Linked DNA regions of Homo sapiens. The protein of the gene in region 1 purifies or fractionates together with the protein of each later gene. This does not show direct contact. Each region holds a gene or a part of one and is shown in the gene's direction. Other genes may lie near its edges.

Evidence for each region.
Region 2: the proteins of SLC22A4 (region 1) and SCFD1 purify together in Homo sapiens (affinity purification with mass spectrometry; one large-scale study listed by BioGRID and IntAct). This does not show direct contact.
Region 3: the proteins of SLC22A4 (region 1) and LSS purify together in Homo sapiens (affinity purification with mass spectrometry; one large-scale study listed by BioGRID and IntAct). This does not show direct contact.

The regions. Positions count from the first base shown.
Region 1 is NC_000005.10:132,339,388-132,342,197, forward strand, and holds part of SLC22A4 (solute carrier family 22 member 4), read left to right. Parts: intron 1-1,177; coding exon 1,178-1,313; intron 1,314-2,810.
Region 2 is NC_000014.9:30,628,738-30,632,399, forward strand, and holds part of SCFD1 (sec1 family domain-containing protein 1), read left to right. Parts: intron 1-1,739; coding exon 1,740-1,828; intron 1,829-3,662. UniProt on the Homo sapiens protein: Plays a role in SNARE-pin assembly and Golgi-to-ER retrograde transport via its interaction with COG4. Involved in vesicular transport between the endoplasmic reticulum and the Golgi.
Region 3 is NC_000021.9:46,190,629-46,194,290, reverse strand, and holds part of LSS (lanosterol synthase), read left to right. Parts: intron 1-131; exon of another isoform or gene 132-201; intron 202-2,331; coding exon 2,332-2,410; intron 2,411-3,055; coding exon 3,056-3,187; 3' UTR 3,188-3,662. UniProt on the Homo sapiens protein: Key enzyme in the cholesterol biosynthesis pathway. Catalyzes the cyclization of (S)-2,3 oxidosqualene to lanosterol, a reaction that forms the sterol nucleus.

The DNA.
Region 1 (2,810 bases):
ATGCCTGGTCCTCATTAAGGACTCTACTGGTGAGAAATGCAGACACACCTCATCAATTGGGCAATTGGTTACCTACTGGTACACACGTACACACACACACACACACACACACACACCTGAAAACATGTATGAATTCTCAGGAAAGGTATAATCCAAACCCTTACAGAGAAAGAGAAACATTTTCCTAACAAACATATTCTGCACAGTTGCCCTGTGCCACACCTGAGATAGCAGATTATACAGAGTGGTGTTATTTTTCCCTTTGTCCTTCCCTGTACTTTCAAACTATTTCAAACTATGCTCAGATGGTCCAGTGGTCAGACACTGGTACATAAGACAGGGAGTCCAAGAGTCTCCTACTCCACACAGCTACTCCTGTTAGTGACACAGAGGCCTCAGAGAAGCTGCAATAACAATATTTTCCTTATGTTTTGGGTCAAATGAAATCCATGGGTGTGCTGTTCCTCTGTAAGCTCTGTATGTATACAGGGGCAAAGCAAGATGAGGATCTGTTTTTCTCCTGTGTGAGTAAAGCTTCACAAAGAGATTACATATTAACCCAAGACATGTAAGTGCTCCAAAAAGAAGCCAAATCCAGGCACACAGTGCCTTTACAGAATGTGCCTGATACTTATAATTTACTGATTTAATCTGAAGTGAACATAATACTTAGTTGTTTTTTTTTTTTTTTTTTTTTTTTTTGAGTCTCATAGCCCTGTGGACCTAACTTTCCACTGCAGCCTACTAGTTTGGGCAAAAGCAGAGTCATGCCAGACCTATCATAGCCAAAACCTATCCCTGAAACATCCTGGTTAACCTCCTTCTCCTTGATGTCCTCCCATCCCCCATTTCCAATTACCTCCACCTTAAGAGGAGAACTCTGGTAGGCAAAGAACTCTACCAAAGGAACATCTGTCACACATGACTGAGTAGTAGCTTAGAGGATACCAGTTGACAGGAAAGAATGAAAAGCCTTATGATAATGCAAAAGGATTATAGACATGCACAATGTCATCTGCCAAAAAGAAACTGATATTTTGCTTACTTTTTTTTCTCTGAAAATGTTCAGATTTAAATCCATTCTCTTATACTGTTCACCAACTTCACAAAATGATGCTCAAGAGTGCCCAGAGAGTCCTCCTATCTGATTGATGTTCTTATGTCCCGGGCTTTACAGGTGCTTACAACAGAATGCTGCCCTACATCGTCATGGGTAGTCTGACTGTCCTGATTGGAATCCTCACCCTTTTTTTCCCTGAAAGTTTGGGAATGACTCTTCCAGAAACCTTAGAGCAGATGCAGAAAGTGAAATGGTAAGTAGGACTTTTAACAAAATGATACCAAAATGCCTTAGGGAGAATAAGCATGGAAGAATAGCTAGGAAGGTTCTGAAATAGAAGAGTAATAAGTAGAGACTAGCTCTATCAGATAATAAAGCATATTGTTGGCTGGGCACAGTGGCTCACGCCTGTAATCCCAGCACTTTGGGAGGCTGAGGCAGGTGGATCACCTGAGGTCAGGAATTTGAGACCAGCCTGGCCAACATAGTGAAACCTCATCTTTACTAAAAATACAAAAAATTAGCTGGGTGTGGTGGCAGTCACATGTAATCCCAGCTACTCAGGAGGCTGAGGCAGGAGAACTGCTTGACCCAGGAGGCAGAGGTTGCAGTGAGCTGAGATCACACCACTGCACTCCAGCCTGGGCAACAAGAGCAAAACTCCGTCTCAAAAAAAATAAATAAATAATAGGCCAGGCGCGGTGGCACATGCCTGTAATCCCAACACTTTGGGAGGCTGAGGCAGGCGGATCATGAGGTCAAGAGATCGAGACCATCCTGGCCAACATGGTGAAACCCTGTCTCTACTAAAAATACAAAAATTAGCTGGGCATGGTGGCACACACCTGTAGTCCCAGCTACTCAGGAGGCTGAGGTAGGAGAATTGCTTGAACCCGGGAGGTGGAGGTTGCAGTGAGCCAACATCATGCCACCGCACTCCAGACTGGGCAACAGAGCTAGACTCTGTCTCAAAAATAATAATAATAGTAATAAAGCATATTGTTGAGCAATAGTAATTAAAACAATGTGATAATGGTATAGGAATAGAAACCAATGGAATAGGATAGAGTTCAGGATAAAACCCAAGAAAATATAAAAATTCAGTATGTAATAAAAAGTAGCAAAGTCAAGGGGGAATAGTTATTCAGTAAAAGGTATTAGAACATTCAGCTAGACATTTTGAATAAATTAAAAAGTTGTCTCTTTAAAAAATGCATTGGCTGGGCATGGTGGCTCACACCTGTAATCCCAGCACTTAGGGAGATTGAGGCAGGCAGATTGCTTGAGGTCAGGAGTTCGAGAACAGTCTGTCCAACATGGTGAAACCCCATCTCTACTAAAAATACAAAAATTAGCCAGGCATGGTGGCGCACCCCTGTAATCCCAGCTCGCGGGAGGCTGAGGCAGGAGAATCGCTTGAACCAGGGTGGTGGATGTTGCAGTGAGCCGAAATCGCGCCACTACACTCCAGTCTGCGTGACAGAGCGAGACTCCGTCTCCAAAAAAAAAACACATCAAGATAAAATCCAGACAGTTAAAAAATTTAGGCCTAAAAATGTAAAATCATAAATATACCAGGAGGAAACAAACATTTTTATAACCTTAGAGAAGATCTTACTGAGCATAACATAAAATCAAAGAACCATAAAGGAACAGATTGATATATCTGATTGTACATTTTTTAAATTATTGGCAAGGCAAAAAGAAACCACCCACAAAGACAAAAGTCAATAAGCCAGGAGAAAATATT
Region 2 (3,662 bases), on another chromosome or scaffold:
AGAAATACTGGAGAGCCTTTAAAAATTCCAATTCTTTAGGCTTCTTCATTTTAAACTTCATGCAGACTCTCTTTCTTCAGATGTTATAATACAGTTGATTGGGTTTAAACTTACTGGTTAACAGTCTCTTTATATTTCTCTCTTGCTAAAAATTAAGAACAAATCAACATGTTTAGAATTTAGGGTGTTTTGAAAACTCTCTTGAGTCTTTATAAGTCCTTTGGGTTAACTCTAAAAGTAGTTAAAGTTGTCTGTATTGATTTCATAGTTTAAGCTCCAGAGTATTCCCTAATTTTCTCCTTCTTGTTCCTTTGTGGGCATCTTCCTATTGCCTCTTGCATAAACTATACTTGCTTGTTTCTAAGACCAATATTGAGCTTTTGGTTGAAATAGTTTGAGAATTTCTTGGGTACAAATTTTTGTCAGATACTTTTCCTACCCATCACTTTTTATATCATTAAAATTAATAATACACATGTATTGAGATTAAAAGAGGGAAGATTTTTGAAAGATGCAACGTGAACCTTTTATAACTAGAGCAGAAAGATTTTTAGCCTCTTTAAAGGAAATCCTGGCATTTAAGAAAATGTGTTTTCATAACAACATGTTTCATTCTCTCATTAACAATTTCTTACTCCATAAATAATTATTGAGGTAGTTGTGAAAAATGCTTACCAGTTGAGGATCTCTTTTATTTGTCTTAACCGTGAAACTAATTTTGAGTTAAAAAGCCCATTTGGAGTTCTTACCACACCTCAAAGCTGTCTGTTTTAATACTTTGAGAATGTGAGGAAGTGTATTTGATAGACTAAGTCTATCAAATACTCTTTAGGGACTTAATTTTTTTTTTTTTTTTTTTGAGATGGAATCTCGCTTTGTCGCCAGGCTGGAATGTAGTGGCGCAATCTCAGCTCACTGCAGCCTCCGCCTCCCAAGTTCAAGTGATTCTCCTTCCTCAGCCTTCAGAGTAGCTGGGATTACAGGCACGTGCCACCACACCCAGCTAATTTTTGTATTTTTAGTAGAGAAAGGGTTTCACCATGTTGGCCAGGATGGTCTCTATCTCTTGACCTAGTGATCCGCCCACCTCGGCCTCCAAAAGTGCTGAGATTACAGGCGTGAGCCACTGTGCCACAGCCAGGGACTTAATTTTTTTTAATGAGTATCTTTTTAACCTGAGATGCTTAAAATACTAAATTTTTTATTGTGGTCCTGGAACTTGTTATATATTAGTTTTGAAAATGGCTAATTTTTACATCTCTGTTTTTAGAAAAGATATATGTGAACTGGAAAAAAAATAAGGGTATGAACGTGAATTGGCTTTAAGTTCAAAGTTTATGATAGCTTAAGGATTTTATAGTCTCTATTTTTTTAAAACCTAGAAAAAAGAATTTTATAAGAAGAAATTGATATAATTATTTATTTTAGCCTGAGTAGTAATGCTTTAAGAACGTATTACTGCCTGGATGGACATTTGGGTAAATAATGATGGAAAATATTAAATTGAGGCAAGGATAACAATTCAGTATATATGATGTATTAAAATTTACTTCAACATTGTCTTAATATAGGTTCACTATTGGTTGTTCACTGATAATGATGGAAAATGTTAAATTGAGGCAAGGATAACAATTCAGTATATATGATGTATTAAAATAAAATTTACTTCAACATTGTCTTAATATAGGTTCACTATTGGTTGTTCACTGATAATGATGACACATGGTTTTTTTTAATAGGTACTCATTTATGACAGATTTGGCCAAGATATAATCTCTCCTCTGCTATCTGTGAAGGAGCTAAGAGACATGGGAATCACTCTGCATCTGTGAGTTTTTACATATTTCTAATAGTGGTATTCATTTAAAGAACATTTATAGAGAAAAATAGTGTTAGGTTACAGTATTTATGTAGTATTGAACATTTTTTCCCTGTATCTTCTTTATTCAACCCCTTATTTCTGGGATTTAAAAAAATCCTCAGTCTGAGGCTTTATAATTTCAGAATTTAAATTTTCTGCCTTGTGGCTTTTCCTTAGATTTGGTTTACCCTCTATGTAAAGGAAAAGAACTAGTAATCTTAAGGTCTCTTCCAGCTCTAAAAGTGTTTTGTTCCTTTAATTTAAATACACAGATTCTCCTTGACCTACAATGGGGTTACATACTTATAAACCCATCATAAGTTGAAATTTTGTAAGTCAAAAAAATGCATTTAATACACCTAACCTACCAAACATCATAGCTTAGCCTCTCCTACCCTCAGCATGCTCAGAATACTTACATTGGCCTACAGTTGGGCAGAGTCAGATCTAACACATAGCCTCCTTTATAATAAAACCGGGCACGGTGGCTCACGCCTGTAATCCCAGTACTTTGGGAGGCCAAGGCGGGCAAATCACAAGGTCAGGAGTTCGAGACCAGCCTGGTCACGTGGTGAAACGCCATCTTCACTAAAAAAAATACAGAAAATTAGCCAGGCATGGTGGCAGGCACCTGTAATCCCAGCTACTTGAGGCTGAGGCAGGAGAATCACTTGAACCCGGGAGGCAGAGGTTGCAGTGAGCCGAGACTGTGCCACTGCACTCCAGCCTGGGCAAAAGAGCAAGACTCTGTCTCAAAATTTAAAAAAAATTAATTAATTAAAATAAAAATAAACTGTTGAATATCTCACGTAATTTATTGACTGCAGTGCTGAAAGTTGAAAACAGAATGTTTTTATAGGTGCTTAAAATATGATTTCTATTGAATATGCACTGCTTTTGCACCATCATAAAGTCAAAAAATCCTAAGTTGAACCATTGTAAGTCAGGGAGTGTCTATATTTTTTTAAAAAAAAGGAATATCTAATTAATCATTAATATGAAAAATTTAAGTGACTATGAAGTAATGACTGTTAATCACCATAGTGGGCTATCTGTGTTGTCTTAACTGTTAAGTTTGTGTGATTATATTGCTTCTGATATGTTTAATAAAAATAAAACAAATGCAGTACTTTATGGGCTTGCCTAGTAGAACATTTGGAGAAGGGGCCAGGCACAGTGGCTCATGCCAGTAATCCTAGCACTTCTGGAGGCCCGGGTGGGCGGATCACTTGAGGTCAGGAGTTCGAGACCAGCCTGGCCAACATGGTGAAACCCCGTCTCTACTAAAAGTACAAAAATTAGCTGGGCATGGTGGCGTACCCACCTGTAATCCTAGCTACTTGGGAGGCTGAGGAAGGACAATTGCTTGAACCCAGGAGGCAGAGGTTGTAGTGAACCGAGATCGTGACACTACACTCTGGCCTGGGCAGCAGAGCAAGATTCTGTTGAAAAAAAAAAAAAAAAAAAAAAAAAGAACGTTTGGAGAAGGACTGTGTTCATGGATAGATACTAATACTTCTGTATACTAAAAGAGTCCAATTTTATGGTGTTCTAAGCTATTTGCATTTTGTTCTATTTATGATGTTATAACCAATTTTTATGATATCATATATTGAATTGAAATGTACTCTTACTGGGAATATAGTTTTAGATTTTCGATAAGTAACTTGACAGAATCTGGTTTAATCAGCTCAAATTCTTCAGTTGTATAATGAGCATTTGTTAATAGACTGTTATAGTTTGTCAATTCCAAATGTCCTTTTTTACATTTCTGAAATTAGGATCTATCTTATCACTGATG
Region 3 (3,662 bases), on another chromosome or scaffold:
GGGGCCCTGCAGAGAGGCTCGCCTCTTAGAAGTGAACCACCCACCATTAGCCATGTCAGTGGAAGAGCAAGCACATCAGGGACCCATGGAAACAGCGAGGTGGGCTGCGATGAGGATGCTGCTTCCTGGTGTGGTAGTGATGACGGTCACAGCAGCTGCTCTCTGTGGCCCTACTGTGTTCACAGCTGGTGCTGAGCCACATATGTGCCAGGTGCACACACACGCAGACGCATGCAGGCAGGCATCAGTGTACACACTGATGTGCACACACAGATGTACATGGAGACAGATGCACACACAGGCCTATGCACACACGTACGCATGCCCACACAGGCACCTGTGTCCACACACATACAGATGCACCCACAGCATCCCATCTGTGCCACACACTGACATAGGTACATGGAGACAGATGCACACACAGGTCTGTGCACACACGTATGCATGCACAGGCACCTGTGTACACACACGTACAGATGCACCCACAGGATCCCATCTGTGCCACACACAGACGTAGGTACATGGAGACAGATGCACACACAGGTCTGTGCACACACATACATACGCATGCACAGGCACCTGTGTACACACATGCAGATACACCCACAGCATCCCATCTGTGCCACACACAGACATAGGTACATGGAGACAGATGCACACACAGGTCTATGCACACACATACGCATGCACAGGCACCTGTGTACACACACGTACAGATGCACCCACAGGATCCCATCTGTGCCACACACAGACGTAGGTACATGGAGACAGATGCACACACAGGTCTGTGCACACACATACATACGCATGCACAGGCACCTGTGTACACACACGCAGATACACCCACAGCATACCATCTGTGACACACACAGACGTAGGTACATGGAGACAGATGCACACACATGTCTGTGCACACACATACATACGCATGCACAGGCACGTGTGTACACACATGCAGATACACCCACAGCATGCCATCTGTGACACACACAGACGTAGGTACATGGAGACACATGCACACACAGGTCTGTGCACACACATACGCATGCACAGGCACCTATGTACACACATGCAGATACACCCACAGCATCCCATCTGTGCCACACACAGACATAGGTACATGAAGACAGATGCACACACAGGTCTATGCACACACGTATGCATGCACAGGCACCTGTGTACACACATGCAGATGCACCCACAGTATCCCATCTGTGCCACACACAGACATACGTACATGGAGACAGATGCACATACAGGTCTATGCACACATGTACACATGCACAGGCACCTGTGTACACACATGCAGATGCACCCGCAGTATCCCATCTGTGCCATACACAGACATACGTACATGGAGACAGATGCACATACAGGTCTATGCACACATGTACACATGCACAGGCACCTGTGCACACATATGCAGATGCACCCGCAGTATCCCATCTGTGCCACACACAGACATACGTACATGGAGACAGATGTACACACAGGTCTATGCACACATGTACACATGCACAGGCACCTGTGTACACACATGCAGATGCACCCGCAGTATCCCATCTGTGCCACACACAGACATACGTACATGGAGACAGATGCACACACAGGTCTATGCACACATGTACACATGCACAGGCACCTGTGCACACATATGCAGATGCACCCGCAGTATCGCATCTGTGCCACACAGACATACGTACATGGAGACAGATGTACATACAGGTCTATGCACACATGTACACATGCACAGGCACCTGTGCACACATACATACAGATGCACCCGCAACATCCCGTCTGTGCTGCCCTATTAGGTTTGTGGCCATTTGGGGAATCTTCCTAAAACCCTAAAAGCTAGGGCAGGTCTGCTTGAGCAGGAGCAGCAGGGTCTGGGGGACCCCTGAGGGCAGGACAGTCAGGGACCCACAGTTGAGCTGGGCCCGCTGAGCCCTGGATCCTTCTTGGTGTCTTATCCTGGCCAGCAAGCAAGTGTGAGCTCCTGTGGGTCTCCAGAGGCCCATGAGGACCAGTGGGCCAGTTGGGAACAAGGCTTGGCGTCCTCTTCAGGGGGGAACACCAGGGCAGGCCTGAGGAGGCCTGTGTCCCCAGCCTGTCATTGCTGTGGCTCCGCTTCTCAGGGAGCCTAGGAAGAAGGTGTGGCAAGAGCCCGAGGCGCTGGCTGCACCTGGCGGGGCCTGTGGGCGTCAGTTTAGACCCATCCATTCTCACTGCAGCATTCCAGGGTTTGCCCTTATGCTCGGCTGTGTGAGGGTGAGGATGATGCTGTGGGGGCATGCATGCTGGGTGTGTTTCAGCCTTCTCTTCCACCAGGCATCCTGACATCGAGGCCCAGGAGAGAGGAGTCCGGTGTCTACTTGAGAAACAGCTCCCCAATGGCGACTGGCCGCAGGTATGCCGCCAGGGACCTGAGCGCACAAGGCCCAGCACTGACCTCCAGCGTGCATGGCTGTTTCCACGTCCCCCTGCTCTGTGTCCTTTTTGGGGTACTTTGGACACTTGGGAGGCGTCACCTCTGCCAGTGAATGCCACAGTTGGTGGCAGGTCTGTGGCAGGTGGTCGGGTCCTAAAGTCCAGATCTTGCTGTTGTTTCAAGTGATGCTCTGGGTGGGGGAGGAGCTGGATGGGAGAAGCCAGTGGGCGGGAAGCCTTTTTGCTGCAGGACAGACCCTCCCACTCCAGATGACCTAGTGGCCCCTCACTGAGCCAGAAGTCCCTGTGGTGTGGGTGTCATGAGGTCATGTGAGGCCAACCGCCCTCCCCTGGGATGAGGCTGAGTTGGTGGAAGCTGATGTGGTTGTGAGGGGCTGGTGACCCTGGCTTAGGGTTTGCTGCAGGGCGGGGAGTCTGAGCTGGGCTGATGGTGCCATGACTGATGCGGGATGGACTACTTGCTTTCCTATGCTCTTGCTTAATTAGCCCTTTCCAGGCTGACTCACCCACAAGCCAGCCAAGCCAACAGCCAGGGCTCCAGTTCAGGGACTAGCCCTCAGCTGACTGGTGAAGCCTTTGTGTTTATTTCTCTGTGTTCTTTTAGGAAAACATTGCTGGGGTCTTCAACAAGTCCTGTGCCATCTCCTACACGAGCTACAGGAACATCTTCCCCATCTGGGCCCTCGGCCGCTTCTCCCAGCTGTACCCTGAGAGAGCCCTTGCTGGCCACCCCTGAGAACATGCCTACCTGCTGGGTGCCGTCTGTGCGTTCCAGTGAGGCCAAGGGGTCCTGGCCGGGTTGGGGAGCCCTCCCATAACCCTGTCTTGGGCTCCAACCCCTCAACCTCTATCTCATAGATGTGAATCTGGGGGCCAGGCTGGAGGCAGGGATGGGGACAGGGTGGGTGGCTTAGACTCTTGATTTTTACTGTAGGTTCATTTCTGAAAGTAGCTTGTCGGGCTTGGGTGAGGAAGGGGGCACAGGAGCCGTGACCCCTGAGGAGGCACAGCGCCTTCTGCCACCTCTGGGCACGGCCTCAAGGTAGTGAGGCTAGGAGGTTTTTTCTGACCAATAGCTGAGTTCTTGGGAGAGGAGCAGCTGTGCCTGTGTGATTCCTTAGTGTCGAGTGGGCTCTGGGCTGGGGTCGGCCCTGGGCAGGCTTCTCCTGCACCTTTTGTCTGCTGGGCTGAGGGACACGAGGGCAACCCTG